Regions from separate parts of the Homo sapiens genome. Here region 1 is linked to region 2. The links come from fine-mapping of genetic effects on gene expression. A gene starts in region 2. The other region holds a variant in brackets. All regions are shown on one strand. Distances are between the middles of the regions.

Region 1 (8,000 bases), 31 kb after region 2:
TCTTCTGCATGCAGGAGCGTTTTCTATTTCAACCCCATCAGCTTGTGGGGGGGAGAGAGAGAGAGAAAAAGAGAGAGAGAGAGAGAGAGAGAGGTTAGAAGAGAGAAGAGGATAGAGAAGAGAAAGTCTGTCTGTCTGTCTCTGGGGTTGGAAGTGGGTGAACAAAGGGAAGAAGCAGGGCCCTGGCCAGGTCCCCTCTCAGGCCCTTCCTGTGACTCCCGGACGGGCAGTGGAGGCCTGGGTTCCTGCTTGGGAGGCAGGATGCCTGGGTCGGGCCCAGCTAGCTTTGTGACTCTGATGAGGACCTGCTTCTCTGGGCCTGTTTCCCCATCAGGTGCCCTCTGTGGTCCTCCATAGACTTCTGGGCCCTCCTGGCACTGACATCTGAGTTCAGGAGGCTTGCTGGGTAGGAGGAAGTCCTGTCCACACCCCAGGGCTCCAGGGTACCAATGCCTACTCTCAGAGCCTGTCTGAACATAGCCATTTAGGCAACATGAGGAGGAGGCCAGGCGCCATGGTCGGGAAAAGGTCTAGCCCCTTGTAGTTTGAGTACCCAAAATCTGTTCTGTGCTAAGAGAATTGGAAGAAAAGTATTTCCTGCAATTTGGGACTATTCCTTACGGCAGAGTATGGTAGTGGGTAAGCTACCAAGCCTGGCTTCCTGTGTCCTGGGGTCTTTGGCAGTTGGAGTCATGGGCATATGCAGTCTTCAGCTTTGTACACACTCAACTCAGAGAGTGTATGGTCTTCAAAGCCCTGTGGTAGGAAAAACTCACAGCAGATGGAGCCTCATGTGTGTATACCAGGCCAAGACTGAGTGCTGTAGTGATCAGGGTGGGGGCCAACATGGACCCTGACTGGCCACCTTGTCCGCTCTCAGTCCCTTCCTGTGATCCCCAGGCTCCATGGCATGTAGAGAGGAACACTGCTCCTGCCCACCCCCGCCTTGTGGGAGTCCCATCACAGTGTCTCATGACATGGCCTTCCTACCCCTGCTTGCAACCCCTCATGATGGGGAACTCACTCTCTCAACCTTAGGGCCTTTCACACAAGGTCATGTGGTGGCTGAGGCCGGTCATCTCCAGGCTCCCCAGTGGAGCTTGGGGGTGGATGCGTGTGCATGTGTGTACTCTCAGTGTCTCGAGTCAGTGTGAGGCATGTCTGGGCCAGTCTGTGTGTGCACCCATACAGATGGGTGTGGGTGGTAGTACAAGCTGTCAGGGTAGTAGAATGTCTGTGCATTTACACATTCAGACAGGTTCTGAGAGTGTGTGCTACTAAGATGTAGAAGCATGTAGGGATTTGTGCAGTTTCAGTGGTGACATGGAGTGGTGTGTATGTGAGTTTATCAGGACCTTTGTGCTCAATTACTGCTGTGGTGGAGACCCCAACAGTGTGTGAGTACATCCGCGAGTGTGCACGTGCTGTTTGAGCAGAACATGACATTTGTGTTATTTGTGCACTGTCAGGCTTGAGCCAGTGTGTGCACGTGTGTGTACATGTGCTGCCAAGAGGGAGAGCCCATTAGGATGGCAGCTCCACTGGGGCCAGGATCCTAGTCGATTTTGTTTGCTGCAGAATCCCCAACATCTAGAACAGTGCTGGATGCCTAATAGGCCCTTGGGAAGTATATCGTGTGGGTGAGTAAATGATTGCCAACGTGAGCTTGTGTACTGGCACGTGCTGAGCTTGGGGTGCATGTGGGTAAACACGCATGTGACTCAGCACCCAGTGAGTGCCCTCAGCACAGCTGGGCCATAGGGCCCTGAGCTCACCGCCCCAGCTCCCTGTCCCCCATCCTACTACCCAACCTACGTCATCCCAGATATTTTAGGAAGGGAGAGGTCTTCAGAGGAGACAGGTGGGAAGAACGAGGCTGTGATAGGATTGTAGGCCACAGACCAAGGTTTAGGCAAATCAGAAAACAAGCAAGGATGGAGTTCCCTCCTCCTGGCCTTGGCATGGCCCAGGACTCTCAGAACCAGGCTCATGATTCTGCCTGGCCTAGGGGGACTCTACATCACCCCCAGAGTCTGCACCCCCTGCTATTATTATTATTATTATCATCATTATTATTAATAGAGACTAAGTCTCTCTCTGTTGCCCAGGCTGGAGTGCAGTGGTGCCATGATAGCTCACTGTAGCCTCGAACTCCTGGGCTCAAGCAATCCTCCCACCTCAGCCTCCCAAGTAGCTGGGACTACAAGTGTGTGCTACCACACCTGGCTAATTTTTAAATCTTTTGTAAAGACGAGGTATTCCTTTGTTGCCCATGCTGGTCTTGAACTCCTGGGCTCAAGCAATGCTCCTGCCTCGACCTCCCAAAGCACTGGGATTACAGGTGTGAGCCACTGCACTCGGCACCCTACCATTAATTTAAACTCGTGGTGGGGTGCTTGCTGAGGAGCCCAGAGATGCTGAGAAACTTGCCCAGAGTCACCCAGCCCTGCAGAAGGGAAGCCGGTGCCCAGACCCTGCCTCCTGGCTTCAGGTCAGGTCTACTCAGCTCTTAAATGCCGCAGACATGAGCCCTGTGAACTGGCTTCCCTGAGGGTGGCAGAGGGGTCGTTTCTGATGTGAGGTTCCAGGGTCATGCCGCAGATCCCCTCCCAGCTTGCTCTGGCCTTTGGTGTCCCCCTCTGATACCTGGATGCCTGGAGGCACCTCAGGAAGAAGGAGTGTGTGCCCAGAAGGCAGCTGCCCAGCTGGAGCCACACTGCCAAGGCTTCCCTCCTGTGCCCTTGACTGCCCTGCAGTCCAGCCAATCCCTGGTCTTCCTGGAGGCTGATCACTTGTTGCCAGGGCAGAACTTGCGCCCTTCAGAGAGCCTCTTTCCTAGCCTCTCTGTCTCCTTATGCGGGTGGAGTGGTGGAGAGGCCACCGCCAGGGCTTGTCAGTCAGGACTTCCTGGGCATCCACCCTGTGAGGGCCTGCAAGATCAGTGGACACTGTTGGTTGTCTCTTCCCAGCTTGGGTGGGGGTGCAGCCTGGGGGCGGGGAGGAAGTGTCTGCCCCGGGGGATTCTGGGTGACTTTTCGCTTTCTCAGTGTTTTCAGGAAGTGTGTGTGTTGGCC[A/G]CGGCTGCAGGAGGTGGGGGAGACACAAAGCAGGAAGCCTCCGGGAGACCAGAGCTGGGTGCAGACATACACACACACATACACACAGACACACAGAGTCACACACACTCACACACACTCTCTCTCTCTCTCCCTCTGTCTTTCTCTCTCTCTCTCTCTCTCTGTCCTTTCCTCCTGGACAGATCCACAGTTATACACAGAAACAAACACACACGCACGTAGAGAAGTGATTCACAAACACTTAAAGACATAAATCACAGGTGCAAAGCCATACCTGGGCTCAAAAACCTCCAAGAGAACGCAGCCTCAGACCCACCCAGGGGCCAGGGGCCAGGCTGTTTGCGAGACCAGCCCAGGCGGGACCCAGGCTTGCACGGGCAGGTACACGACATTCTTGGGCATACGCAGCCCGCCTGGCCGGAGCTGTGGGAGTCCTCAGCCCCAAGACCCAGCAGGCGTCTGAGGGTAAGCGAGGTGCCGCCGTTGCTGTTGTTGCTGTTGGGCACGTAGGAGGGAGGCCCTGGGAGGGCTGAAGTCCCTGTCTGTCACCTCTGGCCTGGTTTTCTGTGCTGCTCTCCTCCCCCTTCTCTTTTTTTCTCTTAGAGTTTTGTCTTATTTCACTTTCCCCACTTCTTCTCTTTTTCCCCTGCCTTTTCCTTTTCTCCCCTTGTCTCATCCCTCCCTCTTCCCTGGGCTTTCTAGGTCTCCACCTCCCCATACGCCTCTCCTGGGTCCACCAGGAGCCCACGGTGCCTGTTTTCTGGGCCTTTCTCAGACTCTGCCCCACAGAATACTCCTCTTTGGGGTTCTTGCCCCTTGGGGGCCTGGTGCTGATCACCTTACTTCTCTGCTCCCACCTCCCTACACCCCTCTGGGGATTCGTTGGGGAGGCTTAGTTTGGCTTATTTCACTGTCAAGTTCAAGGGTGCTGTGATTCTGAACCTCTCACCCCCAGACCAGGGTGATGGGGAGATGGTGTGCTGCTTACCCCTCCTCCCCAGGACTGGTGCTGTGGTGGGTGCTTATGGAGTGTGGGGGCTGGTCTCCCCTTTCCTGAGTTACCGTGGATCCCTAATGAATTCAACAATCCTGTGCTTGGCTTATTGGGGACATAGACCTCTAACCAAGTCCTGTCCACCCACCCGGCACTCTTCAGCCCTGCCCTGTGCCCTTGGCTCATCTTTTCCATAGGGCCCAGCGGATAACTGCACCTGCTCTTTCTGCCAGGCCAGGCCAGGCCTGGGCTGGACCCAGGAAGAGCTCAGTACTTCTGTGAGCTCCCTGAGGATGAACTTCCTCCTGCTGCTGCCCTCAGGAGCCAGCACAGGGCCAGGCCTGGGAAGCGCTTAGAGCTGCCATGGGAAAGGGGCCTCTGCCACCTCCTGCCCAGACAGCAGGGCTGGCCTGTGGGAAAGCTGAGTGTAGGTCTGGTGGTGGAAGGTCAAACAGGTTGTGTGGGCTTAGAGGAGGGAGGGAGCGGTTTGATGGACTTCCTGGAGGAGGAGGCATGCCCTGAGCACAATGGAGTTAATAATCCCAGGTCATTATATGAAAAAAAGCCCCTAGCAGAATGTTTGGCACATAGTGAGCGCTTAGCAAGTGGTAGCTGTTGTCCCAGGGAGAAGTGCTGAGAGCTGGGTGAAGGCGCGGTTGTGAGGATGGGCTCCAGGTTAACTGGGCACTGCTGTATGGAGAGTTTGGGGAGCTGCAGACCTTCTCCAGTGATGAGGATGCGAGTAGGGTGGTGGTCATTCAGTACCCACTTACTAAAGCCCCTTCTGTGCTGGGAACTGCTGGCGGCATGGAGAGGACTGGCCCTAGGGGCTCCCGGCTTGTGCAGAAGTTGAGAGAAGCAGACCGTGGACATCCCATTCTAGCAAGTGAGACCCTAGGAAGGGCTGTCTATGCTGGGGGCTAGGCAGAAGTGAACAGAGCAGAACCAGGAGAGTGCTGGAGGGGATGACCTTTGGGTCTCATGATGGAGGAGGAAGGAAGAAGCCACAGAGGAAGCAGGAGGCATAGGACTGAGGCCCGGGCCCCTGAGAGTCCAGAGCATGATTGAGGAAGCGGGCAGCTGGGACAGTTTACCCCTGTGGAATGGAGACATCAGGGTGGGACACAGATGTCCACAGATCACTGGGCCGGCAGCCCTGATGGTGAGAGTCCAGGGGCTGGGATTGGGCCAGGTCCCTCCAAGACCTGTGTGACATCTTGTGGGGAGGTGGTGACTCTAGGATGGGGTTAGGTCTGGGTCCTCAGTCCTCTGAGGCAGTTCAGTGAAGCACACATTGATATGACCATATTGAGTGATCAGAATTGTGGGGAGCCCCAGGGAGGCCCCAGATCAGCCTGAGATGTGAGGGGAGGCCTGCGATAGTGGGGAGGATGGATGTATGATTTGGGCTTTTTATAGGAGGACTAGGAGTTGGCCAGGCAGGGGAGGGTGTTCCAGGTGGAAGGAACAGAGTATTAAAGGCCTGTAAGTATGCACTGATAGACTGCAGCTCAGTCAGGGAGGGCTGGAGTGTGAGTAGTGGGGTGAGTCCAGGGTCAGCCTGAGATATGCAGACTGCTCCACTCTGTGGCCTTCCTTCTCTCACAGTGACACCTGGTTCTTTCGGCCAGAGATTGGTATAGACAGAAAGATAGGAACGGGTAGGGGTGAAGGAGAAGGAGGTGGCATTAGAGGCCGCTAAGGCTATGAAGCTGGTTCCTGGCTCAGCCTGTAGGGCCTGGGTCTCCTTCAAGGTGAAGAGGTTCTGTTGATGCCATGTGCAAGTGGCCCTCCTTTACTGAATTATCAGTAAGCCTGGAGACTGAGGCTCGGAGAGGAAGGGACCTGCTCAAGGTCCCAAACCAATGAGTTGAGCTGAGTTCAAGCCCAGGTCTGCCTGGCTCCAAGCCCTGTCTCTAGTTAATTGAGTAACCACACATCTCATTTGACGTGGGACAGGCCCTGTTTATGCCTGCTGCCCTGACATAGTTATTAATAGTGCCTCTTTTAACTCTTAGAAGTGTTTGTGGTTTATACAATGAATTATGTGGTCATGGGTAAGAGGAGGGTGACCTTGGGCAGGGCAGTGATGTGTTCCCTCTCAGATGAGTCCTGAGACCTGGTGGCCCATGGGAGGAGACTGGCCTCAGAGAAGCCCTGGGACCCTGGCATGGCCTTGTTTGCTCGGCTGTGGTGCTGGGCTGCCAGGGTTCAAATACCAGCTGTGGCATCAAGAACAAATAATCCAACATCCCTGTGCCTCGGTTTCCTCCTCTGTAAAGTGGAATCATCACGAGCCTTACCTTACAGAGCACTGTGAGTAGATGAATGAAGAATCCATGTCAAGTGCTCAGAAAATGCCTGGGAACACATACACGTAGACACGCACACACAGAGTTAATGAATCCAGGTGTTTGTAAGTCCCTGCTGAGTGCTGGAGATACCCCAATGAGGATGGGATGTCCATGGTCTGCCTCTCAACTTCTGCACAAGCTGCACCCTCCTCTTACCCATTCTGCATTTTGCCTACCCACCATGTCACCTAACCCCCAGGCATGAGGTCTGCTGCATGTATTTTCTCTGATTCTATAAAATAGATTTAGGCTGAGGGCCCAGGCTGGGGTGAACCAACCCCTTAGCTGCCCGGGGTGCCTAGTCTCTCGGGAATAGTGGGTAAGCAGGTGGGTTCACATGCCCCTTGGGTAGAGGGGAGAGGGAGCTGCAGTGCGGGGTGAGTGGGGAGCAGCTCTGTGGGAGAATCTTGGAGGTTGCCTAGAGGAGGAGGCCGGCTGAGCTGCATTTTGAGGTGGAGGTGGGCTTCTGTGGGCTACGGGAGGGAGAGGGCAGAGGAGGATGAAACTGTGTGAAGGCTTGGAGGTGGCGCCATTGAGGACGTGGTCCAGTGGGTGACAAGTCAGTGGGTGACATCCAAGCCGGGCCTCAGCTGGACCTCGGGATTGGAGCGGGGCCTACTCTTAGGGGTGCAAGCAGTGAGAGGCTGGGACTTGGGCTATGGCGGGGGCATTCTGTGGGCCCTGTTCTCGGTAGGGGGTCACTGCCTTTTCCCTGGGGTTTTCCCACATGTTGTGCCTTCCTGAAAGCACTTCTCCTTTCCTGGGCTCCGTCCTGACTCAGCAGTGCCCTGATACCCTGTGGTAAGCAGGCAGGCAGGGAGCAGCCAGGAGACTTCCTGGAGAAGGTGGCTAGAATTTCCCAGATGCTTCCGAGAGGCCCCTGTGTTCCACCTTCGTGAGACACGGTCCCTTCCCTGTGGAAGCTCTGCTGGGAGAGGAGCCCTTTGCATCTGTTTCCCTCTCCCTTCTTGCCGTGGGCAGGGCAGTGATGTGTTCCCTCTCAGATGGGTCCTGAGACCTGGCTGCCCATGGGAGGAGGCTGGCCTCAGAGGAGCCCTGGGACCCTGGCATGGCCTCATTTGCTCAGCTGTGGTACTGGGCTGCCAGGGTTCACATCCCAGCTGTGGCACCAAGAACAAATAACCTAGCATCCCTGTGCCTCGGTTTTCTCCTCTGTAAAGTGGAATCATGACAAGCCTTACAGAGCGCTGTGAGTAGATGAATGAAGAATCCATGTCAAGTGCTCAGAAAATGGCTGGGAACACACACATGTAGACACGCATACACACAATTAATGAATCCAGGTGTTTGTAAGTCCCTGCTGAGTGCTGGAGTTACCCCAATGAGGAAGGAGGGTGTGGAGCTTGCTTCAGGGAACGTGCCTGCTGCCCAAGATGCACAGACCCGTCGCAGTTGATCAGGACAGTGATGGGAGATGCACTGTGGTGCCAGAGGAGGGGGGCTGATGCTGCCGGACCCCAGGGATGCGGACGAGCAGGTGGGCAGTTTTTATTTATGGTTACCACCTTCCCCTCAGCTCTGGCCCTCAGACCTGGGGGAGCTTTGGGAGCCAGGCTC
Region 2 (8,508 bases):
ACATGGAGTGAGTGAGTGAGTGAGTGAGTGAATGACTAGAGGATGGGGAAGCCTTGAGCATCCTTGCCTGGAAATGCTTCAAGCCCCAGAGCGCACAGTGGTCCAGGCCTAGCACTCCCCCGGCACCTCATTGTGTTGGGTGTCAGAGGTGGAGTGGACACTTGGGAATGAGATAGGGTGGAGAGCTGGGCAGTGGATTCCAGGTCAGGCCAGGCTGGGGTGCTCAGCCAGAGGCCTGTGTGGTCAGGGGAGGACTTGGAAGGACAGGCAGGGGAGGGGCTGAGCGTCAGGGGCATTCCTGGGAGGGAGGTTAGGTTGAGAAGGGATGTCAGTGTGATTGAGTGAGGCAGCAGGTGCAGCAGGGTGGGTCAGAGTTTCCACCCATGTATAGCCTGTGCTTACCTAGGACCCTGTGGTTTTCTTCCACGTAATCTTTGAGGCTGGGCAGAGGGAAAGTGGGGGACAGAGCTAAGCCTGAGGACTTCGGTCTGAGGTGGAAGGGAGTGAGGGTAAAGGCTTGTAGGACTTGCCTCACACACCTCCTCCTCATGGGGAAGACAGTGGCCTCCCTGGAAGCTCTGGGCAGAGGGTGGGGCTTTTGTCAGGGGCGGAGGGGCTGGGTCCCTGAGGCTGCTTCCTCCCTTCCCTGCCCTCACAGGCTCCTTACCCAAGTGGGTGGTGAATAAATCTTCTCAGTTCCTGGCTCCCAAGGTGAGTGGCCTTGGGATTTTGGGGAGGGGTGTTGAAGACTGGAAAGAGGACTATGGAATGAGGTGGGTGGAGTCAAGCCTGGAGCCTGAGGGCCAGGCGTGGTGGCTCATGCCTGTAATCCCAGCACTTTGGGAGGCCTTGGCAGGTGGATTACCTGAGGTCGGGAGTTCAAGACCAGCCTGGCCAACATGGTGAAACCCTGTCTCTACTAAAAATACAAAAATTAGCTGAGTGTGATGGTGGGTGCCTGTAATCCCAGCTACTCGGGAGGCTAAGGCAGGAGAATCACTTGAACCTGGAAGGCAGAGGTTGCAGTGAGCCGATATCATGCCACTGCACTCCAGCCTGGGCCACACAGTGAGATTCCGTCTCAAAAAAAAAAAAAAAAAAAAAAGAATGGAGAATGGAGCCTAGGGCCCAGGGAGGGCAAGTAGGGCTGAGGAGTGAAGTTTTGAAAGGGAGCCAGTCAGGATGCTGGGGGCTGAGCCGCTGGAGGGGGGTGTGGAGAAGACCTGCCCCCTAGCCACCCCCTGACCCGGCGGGGCGGCGGGCCCACAGGCCATGAAGAAGATGTACAAGGCGTGCCTCAAGTACCCCGAGTGGAAACAGAAGCACCTGCCTCACTTCAAGCCGTGGCTGCACCCGGAGCAGAGCCCGTTGCCGAGCCTGGCGCTGTCGGAGCTGTCGGTGCAGCATGCGGACTCACTGGAGAACATCGACGAGAGCGCGGTGGCCGAGAGCAGAGAGGAGCGGATGGGCGGCGCGGGCGGCGAGGGCAGCGACGACGACACCTCGCTCACCTGAGCGCCGCACCGCTTCAGGGACGGAGACAGGACCGGGCGAGCCCTGGGGCGGCGGCCGCTCCTGCACTTTCTCCCCTCCCCCACCCGGCACCTGGTGGCACCGGGCCAGGCCCAGGCGGGTGCTGCAGCCTGGCTGGACAGAGCCCCAATAAACGATCCCACAGCCTCAGCCGGCTCATCACTGTGCCTGCTTCCCACCTGCCTCATGGCCGCTGCCGCGGTCCCCTGCGTCTGCCCTTAATTTTGTTAAGGTTGTTGATCATCCGGCCGTTGATCCTTCCAGCATCTCCTCATTTCCCATTGTGTAGCGGGGAGGAGACGGGGTTTATCACTGCCCCCCTTCTGTCCATACTCTGTTCCATTCTCTGCCCGTATCTATCCAGCTGTCCTTGTTGAGCGGTCATTTTGGCATTCACGCCAGGCTATTTGCTTTCTTTTTCACTGCTTTAAGGCAGCGGTCCCCAACCTTTTTGGCACCAGGGACTGGTTTTGTGCAAGACAAATTTTCCATGGATCAGGATTGGGGAAGGATTGGTTTTGGGATGATTCAAGTGCATCACATTTATCATTAGATTTTGATAAGGAGCGCACAACCTAGATCCCTCGCATGCGCAGTTCACAATAGGGTTCTCCCTCCTATGAGAATCCAATGCTGCTGCAGATCTGACAGGAGGCGGTAATGCTAGCTCAGCCTCTGCTCACTTCCTGCTGTGCAGCCTGGTTCCTAACAGGTTCCTGACAGGACCAGTACCAGTCTGTGGCCCAGGGGTTGGGGACCTCTGCTCTAAGGGAAGGAGCAGGCCTTGACAGAGACCCTGGGTCAGGAGTCAGAGGGTGAGGTTCTACTCTGTGTCCTTCGGCCCAAGGCCCTTTGGGTCCAACCTATGGACTGGGGTCTGACACTCCTGTCATCCCAGAAGGGAGGTGGAGGGGTCCGTGGGTCTCAAGCCACAGGGCTGTGGGTCTCAGAGCTGAGGCTGGGGCAGCATACCCTGGAGGGAGGTCAAGGGTGCAGGTGAGGGGCCTCAGATTCCAGTGCAGTTGGTGGGGACCAGGCTTGGTGATTCACGCCCTCCCTAGGTCATTTTGAAGACCTCAGGACTGTGTTAACAGAAATGGTAGGGTCCCCAGACCCCCTATCCCCTTGCCAGTGGTCAGATGCCAGCCTTCTCACCCTGTGCTGCACCTCGCTGGTCTGAAGTCTAGAGGGACGCCTGGGCCTCCCCTGTGATCTGTGGCCCCCAGGTGCCCTCTGCTGCCCAAGGGACACCCCTGCTGCCAGGACCAGAGGAGGGGCCTATGCTCTGCTCCTCTGCAGTGTTTTTGACCCCATATGAACTTGGGGCCCGGAAGTTCTCCGCAAGGTCTGGCCCTGTTCTCCCCTCCCGGAAAGCTCCTTTGCCTTAGCCCTACCACCAGAAGACACGGTCTACTCAGTCAACTCTTTCCCAGAGGGACAGGGTGAATGGCCAGTGGGGGGCAGGCAGGAGATTCTAGAACTCATAAAAATGGGTTGCTTCCCAGCTTTGCCCAACACTGGCTTTGTAACTTTGGGCAAGCCCTCAGACTTCTTGGAGCCTTATTTCCTAACCCATAACCTGGGATGATAATTTTTGCCATCAAGCAGAATGTAAGGATTGAGATAAAAGGAATAAATTGCCCAGCACTGGGACTAGCATGCAGTAGGTGCTCCAATTAATGACACTTTCCTCTTCTCAGGGGGTAAACCCTCATCCCCCGCAATGTGAGATCTGTTCTTCCAAATATACCCTTTGTGCATATAAAGAAATTGAAGCCCAGGGAAGGTCTCTGGCGTGGCTGGCCCCGGAGGTGTTCTGGACACAGGACCCAGAAATGTCTGCCAAGCTTGGTACCCTCATCTGTGTATGTGCTGGGAGGATGGGTGGGAATCTCCTGTTCTCTAGGTGTGGGTGCTGGAACCTCAGGCTGCAGCCTTCCGCTGAGGGATCCTTGGGAGGTGTGGCTGGGTGGGTAGCTTCCCCACAACCCTGCCTGTGGGCACCCAGGGAGGGAAGTGAGATACCCTTGAAGAATGTGGTGGAGGAAGGATTTCCTAGAGGAGGTGGTCAGGCACCACTGACGGCCTTCAACTGCCTCCTATCCCCCTGGGGGTGTGGCCCTCTTGTGGGTGGGGTGTATGTCAGGGCAGACTCACCAGAAGAGGGGTGGCGAGAGCAGGGAGACTCAGGGAGAGGTGGACTCAGCGGGCGAGGTGGCGGGGGTTAGACCTGAGCCTCAGGAGACAGTCGGAAGACCCGCAAGCAGCTAGAGGGGCAGGAGAGAGACACAGACCGACGGGTCCGGCGGGCGGGCCAGGCCAACCAACTCCAGGACCGTGACTAGGCGGGGGGAGGGGCCGATGAGGGGGCGGGGCCCTGCCCTGCCCTGCCCCAGCCCCACCTTCCCCTCCCCGGGAGTCACGTGGGGCGGGCGGAAGCGCCCGGGGGGGTGGGCGCGCCCGGCCCCTTGCTGCAATTTGGCGGTGGCGGTGTAAGTCGGTGGCGGCGCCGGTACGCCTGGTCCCCGCGTGGAGTCTTTACTCAAAACAGGTCAGTGCGGCTGCCGGAGCCTCCCCGTCTGCAGGCCCCTCGCCACATTGGCCTGCAGTTTCCCCATTCTGCAGAAAGGAACGCCGAGGCCGCGCGCTGCTTCTGCTTCCCCGGGTCATCTTGTCTGTTTACCTTTTTGGGCGTGATGGGGGGGTCGCCTCTTGAGGATAAGCCAGCGGGCCAGAGACGGTAGGGAAGGGGGGTGAACCAGCGGGACCCGGGGCTTCCAGCCCGTAGCCCTTTGGCGTGAAGGGTCTCTGGAGTCAGCCGCCCTCGGGCGCCTTGGGGTTCCCATCTGTGAAGTGAAGGCTCCCACCTCGTTGGCCGCTGAGACCTTTACATTTCTGGAGATCTGTACGACCCTATGCCCTGGGCCTGGGGCTCCAGTGACCTTGGGCAGGCTACTTCCGGTCTCTGCATCTCAATTCCCCACCAGTAAATGGGGCATGGCTTCCCCAGAGCCCCTACCTGGCCCAGTTGCTGGTGAAAGAAAGTATGTGCTCAGGGAATGGGGTCACGCTGGGAGTGGGGTGGTTGGGCCTGGAGAGAGCAGGCTTAGGGTGCAGCCTGGGGGCAGGGGATGGGTGTTTGGTGCAGGGCCGGCGGGGAGGGGGGGAATCTGGCCAGAAGCCATCACGCTGTGGTTTCTGCTATATACCGTCCCTTCCCCCACATCCCATATCCTGGGGAGCCTTCCCTGATCCCAGATAGGTGGGAGGGGGGTGCTTCAGGGCCAGATACCTGGGGGTACTCGGAAGGATTTGACTCTTTGGTGGGTCCCAGGGTCCCAGACTGAGGCACTCATGATACCTGTTCGCGGAGAGTCCCCAGAGGCCAGGCTGGGAGAGACTGCCCAGCAAGATCATCACAGGGTAGAAGGAGCCCAGCAGAGCCTTGAAGACAGGTGTGGACAGGTGCAGGCCCCAGGGGAGGGGATGACTGGAATGGGCTTGGCAGTTAAGTGGCAATTTACAAGGATAAGGACCCTCCAAAGGCGAGGGCGTAGCTTGTGCAAAGTCAGGAATTTGGATGGTGTGTCTGAGGAATGGCAGAAAGGTGGGTGTGGCTGGCAGAGGTGTAGAGAGAACTCATCCTGTGTCCCATTCCTGGCTGGGGATTGTCAGGACTGGGCCTGGGGACCTTGCCTCCCCATTGGCTACTTGCATATTGGAGTAGTTTAGGAAGGGGGTGTCCCAGGCAGAGTACCGGTGACTGATGAGGTGGAGGGGGCAGAGGCCACCAGAGCCCTGATGGCCCCCAGGTTTTGTTTTGCATTCAAGCCTCCTACTCAACCCCAGCTTTATACCCCCACCACCTGGGCTCCAGCCATGCTTCACACATCCAGCCTCAGCTTTTTGTACAGATTGTTAATCCTCCTCCCAACCCTCTAGAAGCTTCCTCCCCATTCAAATCCCCAGGTCCTTTGGGACTTCAGGTTTCAGAGATGGGCTGCTGTTGCCCCTCCTTCCTGCCCAGCCTTCAGTCTTGTGTAATGGCACAGCTTAGGAAGGGTCTCCTTGGAGCTCTGTGGGGATGGGGCCTGCAGAGCCATGGGGATCATGGGACCTGGGGCCCCGAGTCCTTGTGCAGCCACCAATCACTATGTGACTCTACAAGTCCCCAAATTCCTCAGAGCCTCCATTTCCCCATCTGCAGGATGGAGTGATCAGCCCTGGCCTCATGCCCCAAAGAGAGACGGTGCTGGGGCAATAGTCAGGCCTATCTGCTAAGATGCTGGGGCAATAGGCCTATCTGCTAAGTCCTGTCTCCAGCATTGAGAGTTTGAATGAAAGAAAGAGAGAACCCAGGGGAAGGGGTCAGTTTAGAGGGGTTGGGGGGGTGTCTGAGAGTATCGGGGGCTAGTGGTGGACCAGGCCTAGGGCATCGGCTGGAGGTGGGGAGTCCCTTCCATTTTCCGGAGCCCTCTCTCCTTCCCACCCAACTCTCCCTTGGCTGAGCTCAAAGCCACCCGCCACTGCCCAAACAAGTGGCCTCTGTTCCCAGGGTAGGGGGAGGGGAGGCAGGCCCTGGGCTCCAGGCCCGCCTGTCCAGCGCTGACCCTGGCCCCCCGCCCCTCACTCTAGGTCTTAACCCTTGGGGGCCTGGACCGGGCCCTGGGCTCCTTGAGGGCTGGTGATTCTTGTTCACCAGCTGTCCCCTCTACCCCGCTTCAGGCTCCCAAGGGTTCTGTCACATCAGGAGGGGATGCAGTAGGAAATGGGGAAGGAAGGAGGGAACAAGGGTGGGGGACAGGCTGGAGCAGATATGGCCATGGACACTTAGAGACCATTTGGCCTAAAAGCTTCTTTCACAGATGGGGAAACTGAGGCCAAGAGCTAGAGATGAGGGTAGGATCACACAGAGACCCCTGGTGGGGGTCAGGACAGGTTCTGTCTCCTAGTCTGGCCTCTCTGGGGGAAAGGGGAGAGAGGGAGAGGGAACTTTTTTTTTTTTTTTGAGACGGAGTCTTGCTCTGTTGCCCAGGCTGGAGTGCAGTGGCACAATCTTGGCTCCACCTTCTGGGTTCATGCCATTCTCCTGCCTCAGCCTCCTGAGTAGCTGGGACTACAGGCGCCCGCCACCACACCTGGCTAATTTTTGTATTTTTAGTAGAGACGGGGTTTCACCTTGTTAGCCAGGATGGTCTCAATCTCCTGACCTCGTGATCTGCCCGCCTCAGCCTCCCAAACTGCTGGGGTTACAGGTGTGAGCCACCACTCCCGGCTGGGAGAGGGAACATTCTTTGTTGAGTACCTGCTGTGTGCTGGACACTGCACATTTGTCATCTAATGATTTACATAATTGCATAAGAGCATAAGACGACCATCACCCTCCAATATCATAGTGGAAGTAACAGCCTTAGAGAAAGCTGAGTAATAACATCAGTGAGAATGAGGTCAGCAAACATGCCTATAGCACTGTTGTAAAGTTTTATCCATATTAACCAATTCCACCCTGCCAATAACCCAAGAAATTAGGTGACATTCTACAGATAAGGAAACTGAGGCACAGAGAGGCTAAGTAACTTGTGTAAGAATACATTGGGAGGGTGGTAGAGAGACAGGGTCAGGACCCAGGTGTTCATTGCCTCCTTTGTCTGACTTCACTTTGATCTTACTCTTTGAGCACCTCCCAGGGCTGAGTGAGGTGCTTTCCCCGGGTGGTGACCGAGGCAGCCTTGAACAGTGTGTGACCCCAGCTAAGCTGACCCAGTCCCCGCTCTGGAGCAGAGTCCAGTCCCTCGGGCAGCTCTTCTCATTTCTTTCTCTGGTCTTGGGCAGGTTAGAGTCAGCACCCTCCACAGCCCTGTGCAGAGAGGTGTTATGTTTTAGAAAGGAGTTCTGTGCTAAGGGTGGCCACTCCAGGGTTCTGAACAGCATGAGGATTTGGTGGGTGGGGAGACATCCCCATCCAATGTGCATGCCCCACAAAACTCAGAGGCTGCCGCTGAATCAACCCCAGTGTCCCCAGCTCTGATCAGAGATAACATTTTTTCCACCTTCCCCTACCCCTGGCCAGGCCCCCAGACTGTATGTGCATTCCAACCAGGGATCTGAGGAGGACAGTCCCACCTGGAGGCAGATGACCCCAGATGTGAAAGATGGTGGGGGGCAATGCATGGATTGTGTTCCACATGGTCTTCCTGTGGAATGTCTCTTTTTCTCATCCTTGGGCCGTAGTACAGAGGGGAAGAGCCTGTCCCATAGTTAGGTTATCTGTCCTAGGCCACTGGGACAGTCAAAGAGTGGCTGGGAGGGGACGTGGAGTTAAGTGACCAGTTCAATAACAAATCATTTTTTTTTTTTTTGAGATGGAGTCTTGCTCTGTAGCCCAGGCTCAAGTGTGGTGGCATGATCTCGGCTCACTGCAACCTCCGCCTCCCGGGTTCAAGCGATTCTCCTGCCTCAGCCTCCCGAGTAGCTGGGATTACAGGCACGCGCCACCATACCCAGCTAATTTTTGTATTTTTAGTAGAGACGGGGTTTCACCATGTTGGCCAGGATGATCTTGAACTCCTGACCTCGTGATCCGCCCGCCTTGGCCTCCCAAAGTGCTGGGATTACAGGTGTGAGCCACTGGGCCCAGTCAACAAATCATTATTTAATAGTAGTAATAATAGTAGCAGTAGCTATTGTTTCTTGGAAGCTGACTATGTGCCAGGCAGTGTGCTAAGCACTTTATATACTGAATTCATTTAATCCTCAAAATAGTCTTCTGAGGTAGGCACCATTCCCATTTTCCACATGAGGAAACTGAGGTCCCAAGAAGTTAAGTGATTTGTCCAAGATCATCCATTACATAGAATAGCTGGGAATCTACATTTCCATTGCTTCACAGTGAAAACCACAAGCACTGGGAGGCATTGCAGACAGAGGAGATCTAAACCCAGTCCTACCCTGGGAATGCCTAGTCAGTGATAGGCA

Evidence for each region. PIP is the estimated chance that this variant, and not a neighbour inherited with it, causes the effect.
Region 1: its variant is fine-mapped to the expression of ARAP1 in blood mononuclear cells (TOPMed, PIP above 0.99).

The regions. Positions count from the first base shown.
Region 1 is chr11:72,717,389-72,725,388 of GRCh38, reverse strand. All of the region lies in intron 3 of ARAP1 (ArfGAP with RhoGAP domain, ankyrin repeat and PH domain 1), which reads left to right. Among named protein-coding and RNA genes, the nearest start is that of ARAP1-AS2, 21 kb to the right of the region's middle. RefSeq lists enhancers at 3,023-3,092, 5,806-5,875, 6,960-7,460, 7,765-8,000 and a silencer at 6,106-6,185. The variant A/G (reference allele first, on the strand shown) is at 3,075.
Region 2 is chr11:72,747,904-72,756,411 of GRCh38, reverse strand. ARAP1 (ArfGAP with RhoGAP domain, ankyrin repeat and PH domain 1) reads left to right here and starts at 4,004. Exons shown (of 35, transcript NM_001040118.3): 1 at 4,004-4,084. It overlaps STARD10 (StAR related lipid transfer domain containing 10), which reads left to right. Exons shown (of 7, transcript NM_006645.3): 6 at 659-711; 7 at 1,270-1,683. The coding sequence ends at 1,515. RefSeq lists enhancers at 3,364-3,593, 4,204-4,323, 6,983-7,142 and a silencer at 3,864-4,153.